2 separate regions of the Homo sapiens genome follow, and region 1 is linked to region 2. Evidence: fine-mapped expression QTL. A gene starts in region 2. The other region holds a variant in brackets. All regions are shown on one strand. Distances are between the middles of the regions. Region 1 overlaps LOC107986623 (a long non-coding RNA gene). Region 2 holds the start of MAP3K7 (mitogen-activated protein kinase kinase kinase 7).

What was found. PIP is the estimated chance that this variant, and not a neighbour inherited with it, causes the effect.
Region 1: its variant is the best candidate, but not a certain one, in a credible set for the expression of MAP3K7 in spleen (GTEx, PIP 0.60).

What each region holds. Positions count from the first base shown.
Region 1 is chr6:90,932,373-90,937,757 of GRCh38, forward strand. The region is part of intron 3 of LOC107986623 (a long non-coding RNA gene); the gene reads left to right. Among named protein-coding and RNA genes, the nearest start is that of MAP3K7, 350 kb to the left of the region's middle. The variant C/T (reference allele first, on the strand shown) is at 2,535.
Region 2 is chr6:90,584,658-90,590,042 of GRCh38, forward strand. MAP3K7 (mitogen-activated protein kinase kinase kinase 7) reads right to left here and starts at 2,415. Exons shown (of 17, transcript NM_145331.3): 1 at 2,107-2,415. The coding sequence starts at 2,226. It overlaps LOC124901363 (a long non-coding RNA gene), which reads left to right and starts at 2,137. Exons shown (of 2, transcript XR_007059680.1): 1 at 2,137-3,298. RefSeq lists silencers at 2,235-2,354, 2,351-2,547.

The DNA.
Region 1 (5,385 bases), 350 kb after region 2:
GAACAGAGGCAAGACCTGTGGGGGGTGAATTATTACAAGGGATAGATATAATGGGAAATAATGAGGCACAGGCAACTGGCTGCTCACAGCTGAACAGCTAGGAGATCTGACATGCTCTGGGACAGCAGTAGCCACTCTAGGAGGCAGCACCTTGGAGTGGGTTTGTCCATCACTTCCTCATTCTCAAGTCACCTTCTTTCAGCCTCTTCTACTGAATCTGCTTCTATGCTATTCCTAACTCCCCCTCTTGTTTTGGCTCTTTGAGAGCTTCTGCATGCCGCTTTTTCTCCACAAACCATTTCACATCAGCTCTGCTCCACATCTGATCTGTGGGTGACTTACATTCAAACTCCCTGAGAGAAGAGAGGATAGGATTGATCGGTTGTCCTTATTTATTGCAGTCTTGTTATTGTGTGAATTTCTTCTCGCACAAGGTGATGCCACAGGCTGATGGCCAATGCATGTCAGACTGCTTTAGATTCAGATACTAACCCTTGATTTAGGCATCTAGGAAAAACAGTGGGGTCTCAGAAACCAAGGATCATGCCTAAGGAAGTGTTTATGGATGCTTTATTCAGAAGGAGTTGGTGAGTGTGGCAGGTGCTCAGGGTTTCTTAAGACTTTTTTTCTAGTGCTAAAAAAATGCCAACATCAATATATAGAATGCCTGCTGTGTGACAGGCATTTAAAACACATTATTTCTGGCTCTGAGAACAACCTTACCATGTAGGTATTATTATTCCTTTTTTTTTAACTTCAAAAATCACACAGCTGGTAAATGAATGAGCTAGAATTTGAATTCAAAGTGTCCATTTTCTTTGATGACATTATTAAAAGTTCTTTAAGTATATAGACCTCTGAGTATGAGAAGGCCTTTTTGTAAAGAAACAGCAACAGCACAGAAAGTTCATATACTATAAAAAGCTAAAAAAAATTTTGATGGACCATAAGGCATGCACGCATTCATTTGTCAATTAATTAATCCATAAATGACTTTAAATGGGTACTGTGAACAAGGGACTAAAAAAATGAGTAAAAATAATCTTACCAGATACAAATCCAAATGGTTTCATATGAAATAGTACTAACTGTACTGTTTTGCATCAGAATGTCTGAATACTAACTATGAAAATCTGGCTAATACTTTTTTGCAAGACAGACAATTGCTTAACAATGAAGAAAGAACAGAGAAATCTTATGGGAAAAAATGTTAATGTAAAATACTCATGTAAATTTTGAGATTGACAATTTTATATAACTTTTTCCTGGAGCTCATGAAAAACTATTGTCCCAAAACATTTCCTCAATGGTAACAGGATCCTATTCTGTAAAGCCCAGCAAATATAAGGTAAAGAAATCAAGCTTTCTTTCAAAATAATGCCATTTGCCATGGAAAGAACTGTCAATGAGAACAAATATTTTTAATATGCCAAAAATGTAGATGCTTTGTCTTTTTTCTCATTTTTTTGATCAAAAGCTAGAAAAGAAGATATTAAGAAGAGAGAGCATATTGTATATGAATCCTAATTAAATAGGTATAAATTCACAGGGATCCAACCAAAATGTGTCACTTTAGCTGATAGGTGAACACCAATTGTACTCTCCTTGGTTAGTGAAGAGAAACTATGGAAATAGAAGCCTGGGGCTGGTGCCCCTGAATGAGCCCCGGTGTTGTAATAAGTTTTCAAAATAATTCTTAAAAATCCTTAGCAGATTTCACTTTTTAAAATGGTCAAGGAAATTACCACATCTACATGTAGCGTAAATGACCAATTGTGGATATAAATTGAAGCAGTTCGGAGAAAGGGATTGTTCACAGATCTTTGCTGCTTCTGTGAGAGAGCTTATCATTACATTCCGACACAGCTTTAAAATACCTCAAAGTGCCCCCACCATAGCCTGCCTGCCCCGTGTCCCTTGACTCTTTTCTCTACAACTGAAAACCACCTTTTCTCTTAGCCTGTGGCTGGCTGGAAGGCTACGGAATGTGAGTTTAATCACAGATTACCATTTTCTACTTTTTCTGTTTTAAGCCAGTTATACTGCTGCTGTCTTAACAGAAATAGTCAAGACTATAAATATATCTACCAGATATCAATTTAAACACATAATGAAAAGTGAAGCAACAATAAATTCACATCTGAAAGTCTTGGGTTTCACCTTTCCCTGATGGGACGAGGTAACATTTACTGAAAACAAAAATAATAATCACAATTGAAAAAAAAATTCTATTAGGAATAGAAGCTCTAAGAGGAAAAAGATTATATCATGAGGAACATTGTACGTTTCTTTTAGCTCATGAATTTAACATGAAAAATGTCTATTGGCTTTGTTTTTCGGGCTGTAGACTTTTTAAATCTTTAGGAATGCTGCCGCCCAATTGTAGGGGCTGCTGTTCAGTTAAAGAGAGGATACTGTGAATATGAGAGGAAGCAGAAAGATTCCGTAAATCATAAGGAAAACAATCCATGGCACTTTGGTTTGTGCTATCTCGAGGCCACGATAGATAAAGAAATGAGAGACCTGGCTGGTTT[C/T]CGTTCAGGAAGTTGCTGGAAGGTGATTGAAACTTTGATTAGCCTGAGCCATGGACAGAGAAAAGAGCTTTGTTCTTCTCTTCCTATCTCCAGCTTGGGTAAAAATACTCACTCTGTTTTGGAAGATTATGAAGAAAGTCTAGACTATAGTAACCTTTCAAATAGTGACATGAAGTTAGGATTAAGATGCTGGAGGCTTCTTTTTAAGACATGGGTGGAAGTTCAGCAGGAGGGCACATGAGAAATGCAGCTGGTGCCTAATCGCCACGTTTGAGGCCTTCAGCTAACGCTTCGCTAGAGGAACTAGGATTTTCTGATTAACTTTGTAGAAGAAGTGTCGGAAATGCTTTTCAACACGTAGGTTGTGACATTAACCTCAGCATAAAAAACCCCTGTATGCCTTCTGGGTCAGAAATCAGAGGGGCTTAGCATTCTCCAAATCCCCAGTGATGACGACTAAGGTGGATTCAAAATTAAGACAGATAATTTCCTAAAACAAGGTGCTCTCATTCTGTTTCCCCAAAGTTCCAGCAATTGACATTGTGTGTGCTGTGACTGGTTTTTGAAACCAGATAACTATGTGCAATAGAGAAAAAACACCTCAGCTGCGAATATAATTTGCTGTCTTCTACTTTTTATTTAAGTTGATGAGGAAATACTTGGAAAAAAAAACCCCACCCACTTCACCTTGTCTTTATCTCTATTTTTATTGTTTCTGGAGATAAATTCTGAGGGTAATTTTGATAAACATCCTGGAGGCCTTGGCCGTTCTAATTGTGTCATCGAACTATAGGGATTTCCTTGGCCTGAGAACCACCCAACCCAAGTTGCGAAGTTCTGAATACCTCTACAAGGCCAAAAGCTCTACAGCAGAGATGCAGCATAATTAGCTCTTCTGTTATACTCTTGAACAAAATGTCAGTTCAGAAACCTGAAGTGTGTGCTAATGACAAGGGCCCAACTGTCCCATAAAACTAGGAAAGTGGTGTTTGTTGTCGATTTCAAGAACTGGAAATCAAAATCTTAATGACACAGGAAATGCTCTTCAAAGGCCAAGAAGTCTTAGTGAAAGATAAGAGGATCAATCAGTCTTAAATGCGAGTTTACTAAGAGTGAGAGGTGGGATGCTGCCAGCATGGATATGTATTTTGAAAGGAATGAATAAAACTCAGCAATAGCGTTAATTTTACTTTGAAGTATATAATGAAACCCCTCAAGTACGGAGACTTCAACACCCCTTTCCCAAAATGACCAAAATTTCCATTTTCGAGCATTTTTCTTTCTGCCTTTTTCCGTTCCCTGTCTTAACAGAATTTTAAAAGAGCAGCTAATAAATGAAGTATACTTCAGTTTCATGTAATGGATTGGATCAGAAGGGAACGGATAAGATGATATTGGAAAAGCAGGTGGGGGTCGAAAAGCTGCCAAAGTGCTAAGCTGTATGGGTTCAATTGATTTCTGGCGTGCAGAACCCAGTCCCCGGATCATTCCAGCAAATGAGAGGAAAGCACTCCCTGTTCTGTTACAATTGCCAGCTCTTCTCTAGGGACTGGTTACCAGCAGGGCCAGAGGTGATGAGGGGGAGATAAGGCCAATTAAGAATTCAGACTGGGGAAGCAGGAAACAGAAGCCACAGGGTGAATTCCAAAGGGGAAGATGGGAAATGAGACTATGGGTCACTGTAAGCATTCAAGGTAGAATACAAATATGAGTTTTAAACCCGCTTTAGAGAAACTCATTTTAGTGGGAGTCAGGATCAAAGGAGGCTGAAGCTTTGCAATGTGGTTTCCAAAGGCAAGGCACCGGGGCAGAATAACTGAGTAGAAACTTACCATTAAAACCTAGCCCACTGCTTATCATCCTTTCTGTGTTCTTGGCACACTTTGGGATATTAGAAATTTTAGTGGTGTACTTGAAGGAATTCAAAAGCTCAAAACAAAACTAAGCAATTCAGCAATAATTTCAACCCAATCACCGCTATGGTGTGACTATAATGGCACCGTGTTCATAATAGCACCCCAGGGATTGGGAGCTAGACGGGCCTGCCGTGAAGGGTAGACAGATGGAGCTCTGGGTACTGGCTCAGTGACACTAGGCCCCTTACTTAATGACTCTCGTCATCAGATTCTGCATCTATAAAATGAGGAAGAAGAGTGGACCCCTTCAGAGGGGTGAGATGGAGAGGTCACTGCCCCTGGCCCTTGTGAGTGCTCATCCTGACGCTGGCCTCTTGGACCCCCACTCCCACCTGTCACTGTCCCCTCTTCACTGCCCTGAGAACACTCCCGCAGTGCTCCAGAGGCCAAGTTCTTGCCTGGCCAGTCAATATGAAATCGTTCTTGGGCAAAGGTGCACTGTCTTTTACCTTACTCACAGCAAGCTGTAGTTTTGCTCTTACTAAATCACAAGACCCACTCAGCAAAAAATTCTTTCTGACATCCGTGGTAATAAAAGTATATGCACTTGAGTAGCAAGGACCAATTTCATACACTGAACAAAATTTGGGAGCATAACTGAAAGGATTCACAGCATACCAGGGGTCCCTGAGCTGGCTGTTCGAGAATGATATTTGCAGGAAAAAGACGAAAGCTTAGTTTTCTCCCTAAATGAAGGCTTCCCTTCTACCCTAAATAGTGGGCTGATAAATGACTTAATTGTTCTGTCTTCAAGCTGGCTGCTGCCAGGCATTGTAGAGTCTATCTCGTTTTTCCCTTCTTGAAAGCAACCCTTTGAGGCAGGTGATGTTACTGTTTTTCAAAGTCATTTTATAGGCAAGAAAACTAAGGATTAGAACCATTAAGTGACTTCAAATCCAAGTCTTTATGATATCAAAGCTTCTGCTCTAACTGGG
Region 2 (5,385 bases):
AAAAAGCTTTAGAAAGTAGCATTCAAAAACTAAGGTTGTAAGAACCAAATGAAGTAAGTTTGTGAAAGCATTTAGTAGACCATAAAGCACAAGTTATTATTATATAACAATTTGTAGTCTACAAGCATAGCAATTCACCACAGAGCAGACGTAAACGCTTATTTAAAAACTGCAATTCTTGTATACTGACTCACTGAATTTTTATTCTTAAAAAAGAATATTAGCCATGAAAGCTGCATCAACTATCCACTTCTGGAAAAGGAATTTATCATAGCCTCAATGTAAAAAAAAAGAAACTAAAAACATTTCCCCCTCTTTTCAAAATACAGGTCTTCTTTTAGCCATATGACCTTAAAGCAGGTCACATTTCCTCTCTGGAACTAGGTTTCCTAATATGTGTCAGGCCCTGTGGTAGGTGTTTTGCATATAATGTCTACTAAGATCTGTTATGCAGATAAAATGAAACAGAATTTATTAGCCCTTTCTTAGAGTAAACTAAAATTCAAAGGGGTTAGGAAACTTGCCCCAAATCACACAGCTAATAAATGGCATATCTGATACACTGAACTTTCCTCTAACTCCAAAGACCTTGCTCTTTCCACCATATTATCTTGTAAAATGAGGATATTCTCAATAATCTCTAAAGTTACTTTATGTGATAAAACATATATAATTCAGTAATCCATTACTCTTCCAAAACATGCACAGGAAAAAAAATTTATTTGTTGAACGTTATCTCACTACTTTGAACTTGCTGACACTTAAAAATAATTTTAGAATTTTAAAGTAGACATAACTCGTTGACAATCTATAATATTTCACTAGGTTTTTCATGGACTATATAACGCAAAGTGCTTAATAAATTTAAAAAATGGCAAATAAATGGTAAGAGATAGTATTTTCAACCAAAGTTTTTAACAAGTTCTAAAGTGTCTTTAAAAAATATATATGCAGTTTTTACTTTTCTAAATTTTATAGTCATTAGAACCCAATTTACCTGTTAATTTGAAAAACGACGCTTTAAAGTCACTTTGAAATATCTTGTTCTAAAATAAATTACTGCAGAATAAAGAAAGGATATGGGTTTTCTGATAGCGATTTCTAGTCTAATATTATATTCTGATTGTCACCGAAATCATTCGTTATCTCTTCAGAATATGCTACTTGAAACATCTTTTGATCGTAGACCAGTCTATGTTACTTATGGTGAAATTCACCTACATTAGCCCAACTGAAAGCCGAGCATTTAAACATTACGAGTATTGCTGTGCGGTATCGGAGAAATTGAGAACCATTCGGTGCTAAGGGAAACACTTTATTAGACTTGATGATCTACTAATTTAACAAGCATTTATTGAGCATCCCCTACATGCCAGGTACTGAAGTAGAAGTCGAATATAATACAATCTTTGGCCATTAAGAACATTACGTCCGGCCGGGCCCGGTGGCTCACGCCTGTAATCCCAGCACTTTGGGAGGCCGAGGCGGGTGGATCATGAGGTCAGGAGATCGAGACCATCCTGGCTAACAAGGTGAAACCCCGTCTCTACTAAAAATACAAAAAATTAGCCAGGCGCGGTGGCGGGCGCCTGTAGTCCCAGCTACTCGGGAGGCTGAGGCAGGAGAATGGCGTGAACCCGGGAAGCGGAGCTTGCAGTGAGCCGAGATTGCGCCACTGCAGTCCGCAGTCCGGCCTGGGCGACAGAGCGAGACTCCGTCTCAAAAAAAAAAAAAAAAAAAAAAGAACATTACGTCCAGCGGACTGAAACTCCAGAACGGCTACGATCTTCGCTGAAACTACTACTTACAGATACGAGAACTGGTGGACCACACTATCTCACCAGTTCATTCTCCTGTTTATCACCGGAATATCAAATCCAAAATCAAGAGTACCCAAGAGAGGAAAAAAGGCAGCTACTCCCGAGCAGTTGAGCTCAGAGAGTAACCCCCACTCCCACGTTACTGAGGGCTGTGGGGTCTCCCGGGTGGACCCCGCAGGGTCCCGCGAATTAGAGGGGCCCCGGGAGGCACCTTCAGAGCCGGCACCAGGCAGAGGCGGGGGCGGGGCAGGCCGGGACCGGCGTCTCCATGCCGGGCCTCGCTCACCTCTTCCACCTCGATCTCCTTGTAGTCGATCTCTTCAAAGTTGAGGACCTGGGAAGGGGCTTCGATCATCTCACCGGCCGAAGACGAGGAGGAGGAGGAGGCGGCAGAGGCTGTAGACATGATCCCTCGCGGCGCCCGGTGGGGCCGGGAACGGTGCCACCCGGACAATCCGGGTGAGACCCGCGCCCACCCGCCTCCGGACCGACCCTCAGCCTGGAGCCGCGCAGTCCTACTACCCGGCGATCCGTGGCGGGGGTAGAGGCAGCGGCCACAGCCGTGTCCGGCTCTGGCTCCGCTGCGTTTTCCGCCGACGGGCCCCGCCCACTACACTTCCGGTTCCGGGCTGAAATCGGAAACAGGAGGAGGGCCGTAAACTCCGGGGTAGGGGAGGGGAGAATTTTGTGACTTGGAAAGAAAAGGAGGGACAGGTTGGGGGTGGGGTGGAGTAAGCTAAGAAGCAAACTTGGACCTCTAGAACAAATTTCGCGAGACCTTTATTACAGGGCCTCAGCAACCGGATGATACCGCGAGAGAGGACGCCTGACGTAATTAAAGTGCGCGAACGGAAGTGGCGCGGAACATGACGGAAAATCAGTACGGTTGGTCCCTTAAGGACCAGCGGGAAAGATAAAAGCTGGGGTTTAGTCTGTGCTGCGTGAAATATGTCTTGGCCTCACTTCCTGTCCTCTGAGCTGCCTGCAGCCGGGCGAGGTGGTGTTGAACTGTGTTTTTTGTGACGAAGCTTACTTTTAAGTTTCATCCCTAAACTAAGTTGACCTGTTTCTTTAAGACGGCTTGCAAAATGTGTTTTCCTCAATGTGGGATATGGAAAGAAGCAGTTGCTCCTGTTATTTTGAGCTAGTACCTGACGCTATGAGAAATTCTAAAAGAGCGAATCAGATCATGCAACATGAATAACTATGGAGGCTGAGTGATCAAGAACAGAAGTTAATATTTTGGTGTTACAAACTTTCCACGGATTAGGTGAATAAGATATTTATAATTTGGTGTGTTCATCTCAAGTTATGGATTACGAGTGCGGGGCACTAGTGCTTTAGATTGGTAAATGAATCATCAACAGTCGCCTTGAAAATCGAATATTTTTGTCACCATTTTCAGGACATGAGAAAACACGCTGAGAGTTTAAAGCAATTATGGTCCTCACAAACTAGATCATTCTGTCCCCAAGATGGTCAGTATTGCTCATGTTGTACTACCAGCACAAGTTTTAGTTTTAAACTAACTGTTGAATTTTATATAGTCCGTTTGACATAAAGCCTAACTGTGGAATTATGTTAAACACATTTGGGATTGCAAATAGATCATTGGATTTGACCATCAAGAAGTTACAAACTCCTGGGAAACATTCTGTCACTTTTTATTCGTAGTTCTAGTGACACGCAGTGACAGTTTGATGAGTGGATAAAAAAATGAAAGAAACGATAATTTCTTTTCACTGTACACTCTCTCTTTGCATGCTCTTACCCAAGGTCTCTGTTTCTCATACTATTTTTATAATGATGACTCCTAATCTCCAAATACTCAAGATTTTTCCTGAATTCTGGACCTATTGGTCATCTCTACTTAGACAAACACCTAAACTTCAAGATACCACAGCAAATTCAAAAGTTGTCACCCACCACAAATATATTCCTATGTTATTTTCCTATGTCACTTAAGGATGCCATCACCCAGTTGGTTGTCCAAGTGAGAAATCAGGGCATGTGAAATGATGCGTGGTGCACTGATACCCAGTAGAAGCTGATATAATCAGTGGGACAGTCATTTTCACCTGTCATTCCCCTTGCATTTCCAAACAAGGATGGTCACTTCTTACCTTGTGCTATAACTCTGCAGGTCTATATCCGATTTCCTTTTAACACCTTGATCTTGCTGCCAGGTGGGAACTCAATAAATACTTAGATATTCTGTACAAATGAATAGCTTTTGTCAGTCCTCCCTTTCCCTGGAGTGTAAGATATGTTTCCTGTACCTTCAGTTTAGGACTGGAATCTTGACAAAGGACTAATTAATTACCACAGCCATGATGCAGTTCTCCTGCTTGATTTTTCCCCCCAAAATTTTGTTACAAAAATGTCAAATATAGAGAAAAGTTGAAAGAATTTATGGTGAACACCTATATGCCCACCACCAGGATTCTACCTTTAACATTTTACTATACTTGCTTTATCATAATATACATATGTGCATCTCATCTCTCCATCCATATTTACATCCATCTACCATTTTGCTAGATGCATTTCAAAGTGAATTGATTACATGATTTTGAATATCTTCTACCCCAACACTTCTATGTTTTATCCACTGATTTGGACTTCTAATATTGATGCCAGTCTAAAATCAATTTTTGTCCAACTTGCTTGCAGATTACTTTTTTCTTTTTTGTCTGCCTGCGCCTTTTCCCTAGCTTCTAGTAATAGATGGAAAGTTTCATCAGTGTTTATGTCTCTGGGTTCAGTCATTCCCAAGGTCCAATCCATCTCTTACATTCTGTGATTTGGTTATGTGAGCTAGTAAATTACCATTTCATTTAAGCTGGTCCAAGTTGTATTTTTGTCACTTGTAACCAAATAATCCTAAGTAATAAAGTTTAAATGCAGAGGAATGATGGAGGGGAGCTGAACCTCTCTCAGTTCACTTCAATTTTGACTTTGCATTTCCTTTAACTTTCATGAATTAAGGATAGAAACTTGACCTCAGAATTTCATGTCAACTTCAGTCACCAGTCTGTGTGTCTCCACACGTTTCCGGATACATATCAAAACTATTTAAGTAAATTCCTTGAAGTCCCTCCGAGTTTGAGCACCCTCCACCATTCTCCCTCATGTCAGCACCCTAATAACTACTCTCTAACTTCCAACTCTGTCTTCAATTTTGGCCCTTTTATACTCTCCAGGGGTTGAGAGGACAAGGGTTTCAAAATCCATTTCCCACCACCTCTTTGCTTGTTCTAAATGAGATTCTGATCTTATTTGGCTCATTTTGGGTGTAGGGATATCTGGGACCTATTTTAATGGAGGCTTAGCAGAAACTGGGACTAAAGTAACACCACTTTAATGTTCTGGGTCATATATATGTCAGACAAGTGTTCCATATTTCCATCATAGGCTTGATGATAACATCAATAATTGAGTTTCCATTATTCTCTTCTGCCTTTTGTGGTATTTGCTATATTCTACAATAGTGTTTTTCAATCTTTTTTTTCATTATTGTTCTTTTAAGGAGCCTTTTTAGACATCTTAATGCCCCTCCTCAAAG